3 linked regions of the Homo sapiens genome follow. The protein of the gene in region 2 interacts with the protein of the main gene of each other region in a pairwise test. Each region holds a gene or a part of one and is shown on either strand. Other genes may lie near its edges.

Evidence for each region.
Region 1: the proteins of SLC16A13 (region 2) and TMEM160 interact in binary tests that used the Homo sapiens proteins (3 or more experiments, as listed by UniProt).
Region 3: the proteins of SLC16A13 (region 2) and CREB3L1 interact in binary tests that used the Homo sapiens proteins (3 or more experiments, as listed by UniProt).

What each region holds. Positions count from the first base shown.
Region 1 is NC_000019.10:47,047,090-47,050,836, reverse strand, and holds the start of TMEM160 (transmembrane protein 160 precursor), read left to right. Parts: upstream 1-2,212; 5' UTR 2,213-2,222; coding exon 2,223-2,430; intron 2,431-3,747.
Region 2 is NC_000017.11:7,033,669-7,037,415, forward strand, and holds the start of SLC16A13 (monocarboxylate transporter 13), read left to right. Parts: upstream 1-2,346; 5' UTR 2,347-2,714; coding exon 2,715-2,913; intron 2,914-3,058; coding exon 3,059-3,202; intron 3,203-3,747.
Region 3 is NC_000011.10:46,276,034-46,279,780, forward strand, and holds the start of CREB3L1 (cyclic AMP-responsive element-binding protein 3-like protein 1), read left to right. Parts: upstream 1-1,628; 5' UTR 1,629-2,078; coding exon 2,079-2,180; intron 2,181-3,747.

The sequences.
Region 1 (3,747 bases), on a different chromosome or scaffold from region 2:
CTATTTTCTGTCTAGTCATACTCCTATTCTCCGTTCTCAACTACTCATACGTGCCCTGCTCTTGTTTACACTGCTGGTTTACACTGTTTCTCCAAGCCATCACAGCTGATATCTCCTCATGCTATCCCCAAACTGCCACTCTTAACTCCTGAAGTAAACAAATAATCTTTGCTGGCAGGACTATGCTGAATCTCCTTAGGCACTCTCTAATCAGATGTCCTAGGTCCTCCCAATTCTTAGACCTTTTATACCTGTTTTTCTCCTTCTCTTATTCCATTTAGTTTTTCAATTCATACAAAACTGTACCCAGGCCATCACCAATACTTCTACACAACAAATGTTTCTTCTAACAACCCCACAATATCACCCCTTACCACAAAATCTTCCTTCAGCTTAATCTCTCCCACTTTAGGTTCGCACGCCGCCCCTAATCCTGCTTGAAGCAGCCCCGAGAAACATCGCCCATTCTCTCTCCATACCACCCCCCAAGACTTCAACACTATTTTGTTTTATTTTTCTTATTAATAAAAGAAGGCAGAAATGTCAGGCCTCTGAGCCCAAGCCAAGCCATCGCATCACCTGTGACTTGCACGTATACATCCAGATGGCCTGAAGTAACTGAAGATCCACAAAAGAAGTAAAAATAGCCTTAACTGATGACATTCCACCATTGTGATTTGTTCCTGCCCCACCTAACTGATCAATGTACTTTGTAATCTCCCCCACCCTTAAGAAGGTTCTTTGTAATTCTCCCCACCCTTGAGAATGTACTGTGTGAGATCCACCCCTGCCCGCAAAACATTGCTCTTAACTTCACCGCCTATCCCAAAACCTCTAAGAACTAATGATAATCCACCACCCTTTGCTGACTCTCTTTTCGGACTCAGCCTGCCTGCAGCCAGGTGAAATAAACAGCCATCTTGCTCACACAAAGCCTGTTTGGTGGTCTCTTCACATGGACGCGCATGAAACGATTCTCCTGCCTCAGCCTCACAAGTAGCTGGGATTACAGGTGCCTGCCACCATGCCTAATTTTTGTATTTTTAGTAGAGATGGGGTTTCACCATGTTGGTCAGGCTGGTCTCGAACTCCTGATCTCGTGATCTGCCCGCCTCAGACTCCCAAAGTGGTGGGATTACAGATGTGAGCCACCGTGCCTGGCCCGGGCTTGGATTTTATGAAGAGGAAAAGTAGGGGAGCTAGCAAGGGGGTTACACTTGAGGAGGGAGTTCAAATGGACTGCACTGCATAGCCTGCAGGCTTGCAATGAATGTGAAGCTTTAAATGGGATTAAGTGCAAATTGAAAATATTCCAGACACATTTTTCACATTCCTGGCTAGTGAAAAGGTTTATGCTGATGAGAGAAGGCAAAGCTGAATCCCGGAATGGGTTAGGGCAAAGAAAACAAATCTGTCTTAAAGAGACAGACCTGGCCGGGCACGGTGGCTCACGCCTGTAATCCCAGCACTTTTGGAGGCCGAGGCGGTTGGATCACTTGAGGTCAGGAGTTCGAGACCAGCCTGGCCAACATGGTGAAACCCTGTCTCTACTAAAGATACAAAAATTAGCTGGGCGTGGTGGCGCATGCCTATAATCCCAGCTACTCAGGAGGCTGACGCAGGAGAATCGCTTGAACCCGGGAGGTGGAGGTTGCAGTGAGCCGAGATCGCACCACTGCACTCCAGCCTGGGCGACAGAGCAAGACTCGGTCTCGGGGCGGGGAAAAAAAAGGAAGGAGGGAAGGAAGGAAGGAGGGGAGGGAAGGGAGGGAGGGAGGGAAAAAGAAAGAGAGAAAGAAAGAAAGAAGGAAAGAAAGAAAGAGAAAGAAAGAAAAAGAAAGAAAGAAAGAAAGAGAAAGAAAGAAAGAGAAACAACCAAGAAACAACTACAATAGGTGCTCGGCATGTACTCCGTTAAAAAAGATAGAATTAAAACTACAATTCCCAGCAGACATCTCGCCTGCGACTTCTGAATATCGGCTTTCCCCGAGCGCAATGATCGCTGGGATTCGTAGTCCGGTACAAAATCAAGGAGGGACGGGCACTACCGGCCTAGATGACAGAGGAGGGAATCACTGCCATTCCGACCAATGGACAGTTCACGCCGGACCTGAGTGGCGAGCGCATAGCCAATGGGTAAGCCATTCATCCTGAGTGACATGGGTTGCAACCTACCGGAGGCCGGTGGGGCGGTACGGCGCGCGGCGGCCGTAGTGCGAATCATGGGAGGCGGCTGGTGGTGGGCTCGGGCCGCTCGCCTTGCCCGTCTTCGCTTCCGGAGGTCGCTACTGCCGCCTCAGCGGCCCCGGAGCGGGGGCGCCCGGGGGTCCTTCGCCCCCGGCCACGGTCCCCGCGCCGGGGCTTCGCCGCCCCCAGTGTCCGAGCTGGATCGTGCGGACGCCTGGCTCCTCCGAAAAGCGCACGAGACAGGTCGGTGGCTAGGGGTGGGGGCGGTGCGGATGGGACGGGGGTCCCGGGCTCGCGTGGGACCTTGATGGGGCGGGGGCTTCTGCAGGAAACGGGGCCCGGGCTCGGCTCCGAGAAGGGCTTCAGTGTGAGCGCACGGAAGCGCAGACTGCAAGAGCGCAGGTGCCCGCAGAGGGGATGGGCTTGCGGGGAGGACGAGGACCCCGGGTAACGGGGCGCCGTAGGGATTGGAGGGGGTGGTAGGGTTGCGCGAGGCAGCCTCGTAGAATCGCGCCTGCCGTGGGGAGAGGGGCTTCAGGGAGAGCTTAGGGTCTGTGGAGTTGGGTACAAGATGGGTCCATCCCGATTGCAGAGGCCACCACTGTGCAGAGAGCGGGAGTGTGGATCCCCGCAGAAGAGGGGGAAGTTCAGGATTGGAGAAGGGGACAACCAATCGGGAGAAAGCTCTCTGCTGATTGGAGGGGGAGGTGATCTAGGCTGCAGAGGGCGGGGCTTGTGACGGAGGCGAGGTCCAGAATGGAGCGGACTGGCCATGTTTGTTTTTTTTTTAATTTTATTTTTTTAATGACGGTGTCTTGCTCTGTCACCGAGGCTGGACCGCAGTGGCGCAATCGTAGCCCACTGCAGCCTTGAACTCCTGGGCTCAAGCTATCCTCTTGCCTCAGCCTCCTGCTTAGCTGGAGCTACAGGCATACACCACCGCACCCAACTATTTTAATTTATGTAGAGACGGGGTCTTGCTTTGTTGCCCAGGCTGGTCTGAACTCTTGGGCTCAGAGAATCCTCCTGCCTTGGCTTCCCAAAGTGCTGGGATTATAGGTGTGAGTCACCTCACTAGGCCAGGACCGGGCATCTAGATATAGGGTGTGGTGGGCTGTTTGTAAAGGACGTGAATGGGGACGGACGTGGGTGGGATTGGCCCAGGCCATACTCGGTAGGACATGGATGGGATTGGCCCAGGCCATACTCGGTAGGAGATGGCGGCATTTGAAGGAAAAGAAGGGCGAGGCTGAAGAGCGGCCTGGATTAGGAAACAGTTTGTCCCAGAGTTCTGAGAAAGAAGTGAGTGGGCAGGCCGTGGGGGTACACGTAGAGGGAGGGGTTTGGCCAAGATGACTCCTCAGATGGAGGTTCTGCAACTTTGCCCCTAGATTGTCCTCCACATTCTGCAGGGACTATCTTGAATCCTTTATTTTTTTTGAGACGGAGTCTCACTCTGTCGCCCAGGCTGGAGTGCAGTGGCATGATCTTGGCTCGCTGCAACCTCTACCTCCTGGATTCAAGTGATTCTCCTCCCTCAGCTTCCTGAGTAGCTGGGAC
Region 2 (3,747 bases):
CTGTTAACCTATTAATCCATTATGGTGGGCTAATTCATGGGGATTAATTAATCCATTAATCCCATCCAATCACCTTTTAAAGTTTCCACCTCTCAGTACCGCCAAGTTGGGGATTAAGTTTCAATATGAGTTTTTGGAGGTAACATTCAAACCATCGCAGTGGTCGTTTCTCAATCTTTTTAAACCCATGACCTGGATTAGATTTTTTTTTTTTTTAATCAAAAAACAAAAACTAGGCAGGGCATGGTGGCTCACGCCTATAATCCCAGCACTTTGGGAGGCCCAGGCAGGCAGATCACCTGAGGTCAGGAGTTCGAGACCAGCCTGACCAAAATGGTGAAACCCTGTCTCTACTAAAAATACAAAAAATTTAGCCAGGCATAGTGGCAAACACCTGTAGTCCCACCTATTCGGGAGACTGAGGCAGGAGAATCACTTGAACCCAGGAGGTGGAGGTCGCAGTGAGCCGAGATCATGCCATTGCACTCCAGCCTGGGAGACAAGAGCAAAACTCCATCTCAAAACAAAAAACAAAAAACAAAAAAAAAAACACTAAACTAAAACCTTCCTTCACTTCCCACTACAGCAGCTTATCCCCTGTTGAAAATAACACCAATAAGACCAGCTAAGCTAATATTACTTGGCTCCTGCTGCATGTCAGCACATAAACTAAGCATTTTTAGTGCATGGATTTTCTAACTGAACCCCTTGGGCAACGCTTAATAGTAGGTACTATTATCCCCAGTTTACAGATGGGGAAACCAACTGAGAGATTCAGCATCTTGATCGAGTTAAGTAATAAAGTCAAGATTGGAACTGGGCCAGGCACGGTGGCTCACGCCTGTAATCCCAGAACTTTGGGAGGCCAAGGCTGGTGGATCACTTGAGGTCAGGAGTTCGAGACCAGCGTGGCCAACATGGTGAGACCTCGTCTCTACTAAAAATACCAAAATTAACTGGGCGTTGTGGTGGGAGCCTGTAATCCCAGAAACTCAGGAGACTGAGGCAGGAGAATCACTTGAACCCGGGAGGTGGAGGTTGCAGTGAGCCAAGATCATGCCACTGCACTCCAGCCTGGGCCACAGAGCAAGACTCCATCTCAAAATAAATAAATAAATAAATAAATAAATAAATAAATAAATAAATAAAAGACTGGAACTGTGATCTGATTCTAAAGACCCGAGTTCTTAATCACTATGTAATACAGCCACAGCAATTTCTGTATCTTTGGCATATTCCCCACCAGCCGACATTTTGACTCTTAGAAAGTATATATGTGTATTATTGATGATTACTTTTATTTCCCACATATAAAATTATTTAAGGCTCAATATGTCTTTTAAGACTACACACCTCCCTCCCTGCCTCCACTTCTTGTTTGCTGCTTTCCCCAGTAATCTGGGAGTGAACATTGAGTCCACGGTTTCAAGGTCAGGGTCCTGGGAAGTATGGCTTATAATGAAGGAACAGGAAATCCAAGCCATTGGTGTTATGGAGACTGGGAAGGACTGGGGAGTGTTTGCTAGGGGCCTGAGGACTACTTGGGTAAGAGGGGGCTGACTGCTCCAGTGGCCAGGGTCATAGTTTGTCTCTTTAGTCTACCCCACCATCAGATCAAAAAAGGTGGTTAGGAAGTGGTTGTTACTAGAGGGCAGAGGAAAAGGTTCCAGCCCCAGTGAGGAAGAGGTAGGTGGTGTTGGTGGGGCCCTGTGTGAGCTTACAGCCGCCCTTCCTCTCCTCAGTTATTTTTGGTCTCTGTGACCTGTAGGTTTCCTGTTAGTGGGAACAGAAGTGACAGGAACGAGTTCCCACTACAGAAATGAACGCCAGGAGTCCAACTCATTCCCCTTCTCTCTTCCCTTAGCCGTTGAACTTCTCAGGGATCCAGGCTTCTAGGTCTGCGTGCCTAGGGCTGCGTGTTAGTGGCTTCAGGCGCTGCGCCAAACACTTCGTTTGAGTCTCATCTCCTAACCCCTCCCCTACCCCCAACAGGGCCTTGCAATTCCTGGACCCCTCATTAAAGCAAGAGAGTCCTCTCCTCTCCAGACCCAGTTTACCCACCACTAACCCTTCCGTGTGGCTCTGGGTGCTGAAACGGGGATGACTTGGCCCGCTAGGTGAAGAGGAGACGGAAGCTTCCTGGCAGTCCCCGCGTCACGTGGGGCCCTACCTAGTCAGCCTCCTAACGCCCCTCCTTACGCATGCGCCCATTCACTGCTGGTCCCCAACAATGCCTAAATCCCGCCCTGCCCTTCTCGTTCCGCCCCTGCCCGGGAGCCCCGCGTCCTCATTGGCGAGCTCCAGGGTGGCCCGGCCCGGACACCCCAGTGATAAAATAGATCATCTACACGGAAACTGGCGCGCTCCAGGGGTGGGGCCCAAACTCAGTTCCACCCTCTGGCTCCCAGCCGAACACCGAACCGGGACCGATCCGGCCCCGGCTTGAACTAGCTCAGCTCCGAGCTCGCGGAACCACGCCCCCGGGAGACTCTGGCCCGGCCAGCGCGGGCCAGGTCTTCAGTCCTATATCGCCCCGCCTTGGGAAAAGGTGCAGGGGCCTCTCGCCGCCTCGTCGGGCCCTTCCTCTCTACCTGCCTCTCCAACCCCTCTCGGCCCCGAGCCACCCGGCAGCGGGGGTGGGTGTGCAGAGGTGCGGCGTCCAGAACCCGGCTCCTGCAGAGGCTCTGGGTGGCAGCAGCCCTGTTACCGCTTAGATGGCGCGCAGGACAGAGCCCCCCGACGGGGGCTGGGGATGGGTGGTGGTGCTCTCAGCGTTCTTCCAGTCGGCGCTTGTGTTTGGGGTGCTCCGCTCCTTTGGGGTCTTCTTCGTGGAGTTTGTGGCGGCGTTTGAGGAGCAGGCAGCGCGCGTCTCCTGGATCGCCTCCATAGGAATCGCGGTGCAGCAGTTTGGGAGTGAGTGCGGCGCCTGGATCTGGCGGACTGCGACCCTCGGAAGGGAGAGGGAATGCGGCGACTGGGAAGTGGAAGGGCGAGGGGCGGGAGATGCTGGGGGGGAGACCCCTGAGATCTTCTCGCAGCGCCCCTTCCACTTCCTCAGGCCCGGTAGGCAGTGCCCTGAGCACGAAGTTCGGGCCCAGGCCCGTGGTGATGACTGGAGGCATCTTGGCTGCGCTGGGGATGCTGCTCGCCTCTTTTGCTACTTCCTTGACCCACCTATACCTGAGTATTGGGTTGCTGTCAGGTGAGAGCCTGCACAAGGGCAGGAGAGTCAAATGCTTAGATCGTTGGATGTTCACCTCCTTCCTGCTCCTTCCAAAGGGTTCGGGGAGAAGCTGAGGGAAAGTTTAGCTAGCACCTGTACCCAGAAGGGAATTCTTAATAGGAATGACTAAAGCGACAAACATGGTGAGGAATTAGGAAATTCAAGGATGATGAAACCTGGCCGGGCACGGTGGCTCACGCCTGTAATCCCAGCACTTTGGGAAGCCGAGGCGGGTGGATCACGAGGTCAGGAGTTTGAGACCAGCCTGGCCAACATGGTGAAACCCCGTCTCTACAAAAATACAAAAATTAGCCGGGCCTGGTGGCGCTAATCCCAGTTACTCGGGAGGCTGAGGCAGGAGAATCGCTTGAACCCGGGAGGCGGAGGTTGCAGTGAGCCAAGATCGCACCACTGCACTCCAGCCTGGGCGACAGAGCAAGATTCTGTCTCAAAAAAAAAAAAAAAAAAGATGAAACCAAGTATACAAGCCCAGAAGCCCAGGGCTAATGGGACTGGAGTGTAAA
Region 3 (3,747 bases), on a different chromosome or scaffold from region 2:
TCCCCAGAGCATGGGTTATAATCCTACTTTCTCAGGAGCAAATTCTACAGGAGGCCTGGGAGCTAACAGTCATGTGACAGCCTGGAAGGTCAGAACTTCACTCTCCAGAACTATGTCAACTAGATCATAAGGTGGGGAAAAGCCACGTGACTGCCTGCCTGCCAGGGAAGCAAACAACTGCTGTCTCAGCCTTGGTATGAACCCTTCTCCCACCTGGTGCTGAGAGCAATTTTGGTGACATCCATGGCTTAGCTGCAATGACATCTCTACCTCTTAAAGGCCTTTGGTTCCTGAGCTAATTAAACGTCCCAGACAGAAAGGACATGCTTAATCTTATTAATAACTTCTGGTCAGGAAACAGTGTGCCCAGCCCTCTGAGGGAGTGCCTTTCTGAACCACCTCCATTTGTTCAGGTGCTTGGCGATTGCTATCAGCCCTTTCAAGAGATTAAGTTTGTACGCAGGAGCAAGCCACTTAGGTAATGGATCCCGGGGCCCTGGGAGTGTCTGGTGACTGTGGAGTGTGCAGCCAGCCAGCACCTTGGCTCATTCAGATTCCAGAACCACTGTTTTCCAACTTCCTGCTCTTCAGAACCATTGGGGGGTAGGGAGGGACTTGACTATCGAGGAGAAGAGGGGGACTCTCCTATCTCTGGCTGTTCACCCAGCCCTTTCACACAGAGGGAAGCTGGGGACTGTCCTTGCCCTGAGGAGCCTCACAGCTCAGTGGGGTCACAGATACAAACAATGTGAGCAAATAAGGACAATACCACATTAGACTGGAAACAGTGGAGGTGAGCACATGATGCCCTGTGGGTGTATACCGTTGGTAACTGCTCCAGCCTGGGGGTTCAGGGAAGGCTTCCTGGAAGAAGAAACAGGTGAGATGAGAAATGAGAGTTACAAGCTGAAAATCGGCTGGGCATGGTGGCTCACACCTGTAATCCCAGCACTTTGGGAGGCCAAGGAGGCCGGATCACCTGAGGTTAGGAGTTCCAGAGGAGCCTGGCCAACATGGTGAAACCCCGTCCCTACTAAAAATACAAAAATTAGCTGGGCGTGGTGGGGCGCGCCTGTAATTCCAGGTGCTCAGGAGGCTGAGGCAGGAGAATCGTTTGAAACTGGGAGGCGGAGGTTGCAGTGAGCCGAGAACACACCATTGCACCCCAGCCCGGGCAAAAAGAGCGAAACTCCGTGTCAAAAAAATAGTAATAATAATAAATAAAATTTTTAAAAAGCTGAAAATCTCCCCCGTTGAGGGGAGATCTGTTGAGGGGACTGTGAAATGGAATTCCCTGACTGGGTTTCGTGCAGGCTTTAGTATAAGGCTGGAAGGATGGAAATAGCTCCCTCATCAATTTACGGGACAGTGGTTGGTGAAGCCTTAAAATGCCAATGTTCCAGGAACACTGTTATCGGTTCCAGGACTATTGTTGCTTTAAGCCCCCACCTTGAGCATTCAGAGAAGAGAGATTACTAAGACGAAGTTGCAGATGTCTCTTTAAAAAAGGAGAGAGGATTCCTCGAGCCACGCCCTCTTCTCATTAATATTAAATTATTGTGAATATTGATGTGGGGGCGTGGCGCCTTGGCCAGCTGGGCTAGCCAGCCAGGGGTTCCCGGTTTCACAGAGAGGAAAGTGACAGAAGACGTGCGGAGGGAGACGCAGAGACAGAGGAGAGGCCGGCAGCCACCCAGTCTCGGGGGAGCACTTAGCTCCCCCGCCCCGGCTCCCACCCTGTCCGGGGGGCTCCTGAAGCCCTCAGCCCCAACCCCGGGCTCCCCATGGAAGCCAGCTGTGCCCCAGGAGGAGCAGGAGGAGGTGGAGTCGGCTGAATGCCCACGGTGCGCCCGGGGCCCCTGAGCCCATCCCGCTCCTAGCCGCTGCCCTAAGGCCCCCGCGCGCCCCGCGCCCCCCACCCGGGGCCGCGCCGCCTCCGTCCGCCCCTCCCCCGGGGCTTCGCCCCGGACCTGCCCCCCGCCCGTTTGCCAGCGCTCAGGCAGGAGCTCTGGACTGGGCGCGCCGCCGCCCTGGAGTGAGGGAAGCCCAGTGGAAGGGGGTCCCGGGAGCCGGCTGCGATGGACGCCGTCTTGGAACCCTTCCCGGCCGACAGGCTGTTCCCCGGATCCAGCTTCCTGGACTTGGGGGATCTGAACGAGTCGGACTTCCTCAACAATGCGGTAAGATGAAGGGTCTCCGTTCCCGTTCCACCCCTCGGCACCCGTCCTCGCGGCGCGCCTGGGCCCCTAGAAGGACCCGACTACACATCACTGGGCAGGAGCCGGGGAGAGGGTTCAGCGCAGGGTCTCCAGGAGCGACATGTGTTTGGAGCTAAGCGCCCCTCCTGGGGGCTCAATCTTTGAATACACTGGCCTCCACCTTCTAGGGGGAAGGGGCCATCGAGGTATCGGGTCCGTCCGATCCTCGGATCTGAGCTCAAGAGACACCAATCCCGCCCTCCACCCACGTCTTCTAGCCGTCCCCAACCCACCCCAGGTTCCAGGACCAGACTGGGCGCAAAGTGGCAGCGCCCTTTCCTGCGCCTCCCTTGGGGCTTCGGTGGCTCATAGGCTGGATCTCCGCTGGGGGGCGCACCGGGGAACGTTCAGAGGGCCTGAGACCCGACCCCTCGGGGAAGCCAGGCCCAGAAATTTCAGGGTGCTACCCTGGCAGCCCCAGGGAATCAGGCCCAGAGACCCCCCACCCCAGGGAGGGACCTGAGGCTGGGGGCTGGGAAGAGGCGGTCAGGGCAACATAGGGTGATGGCTCAGGAGGAGGGAGCCATTTCTCTCCATCTGCCTCTAGATCTCTGCTCTGTCCCTCTGTTCCTGGAGTCTGGCTGACTTTCTCCCTCTCCCTATGTCTTCTTGACTAGGTCCGACTGTGAGCTTGTCTTTCTCCTCTTTCTCACTCTTCCCCTCCCTCCCTAAGGAAACGTGGCTTCTCTCTCTTCTTCCCTCCCTCCCTCTCTCAGGCTCAGCCCTAAGGCCTTGATGGGGGAGGGGCACGGACTTAGAATGGGAGAAAATATTTGGGTTCAGAAGGGCCTGCCCAGATGAAATGTGGATTGTTTGGGGAGTCTAGTGGGAGCCCCCTCTTCAGTGAACCACCAGTTGCGTGTGCATGCCTGTTCACACGCCACACACACACACACACCCTGTGATCAAGCACTTGAGACTCTTTACCTGCTGACCTCTACCTCCCAGGACCAAGATAAACTTGGCCAGGCAAGAGTCAAGTCCTTAGAGGACTTGAGCATCTTGGACTTCCACCTAAACTGTCCCAGGCCACTAGATTGATGGTGAGGAACCAGGCCAAGGGACAGGAGCCGGAGTCAAGGAGGCATGGGGGCTGAGGTCTCCCTGTTCTCCATTAAGCAGCACATCCTGGTCACCCTGCGCTCTGAGGAAGGCCCCTGTCCCAGGCAGAGAGAGCATAATTCAGCAGACAAGACAAGGGTATAAGGGCAGAGGGCTTGCATTGACTGCAGCGAGACTTGGTTTCTAGTCCTGGCTCTGCTTCCCCTGTGAGCTTGGCCCCTACCACTGGCTCTCCTCCCTGAGCCTCAGTTTCTTTGTCTGTAAAATGGGGGAGAGGTTGGATCAGGTCTTCCTATAGATGGTTCTGGCACAGATCCCAGGAATAAAGCAGCAGGGATCGGGGGATCCACACCTCCTCTTGAAGCTGGTAAAAGACACTAGTCAGAGGGAAAGAGGTTTGTCAGAGCTCGGACCCTTGAAGTCAAGC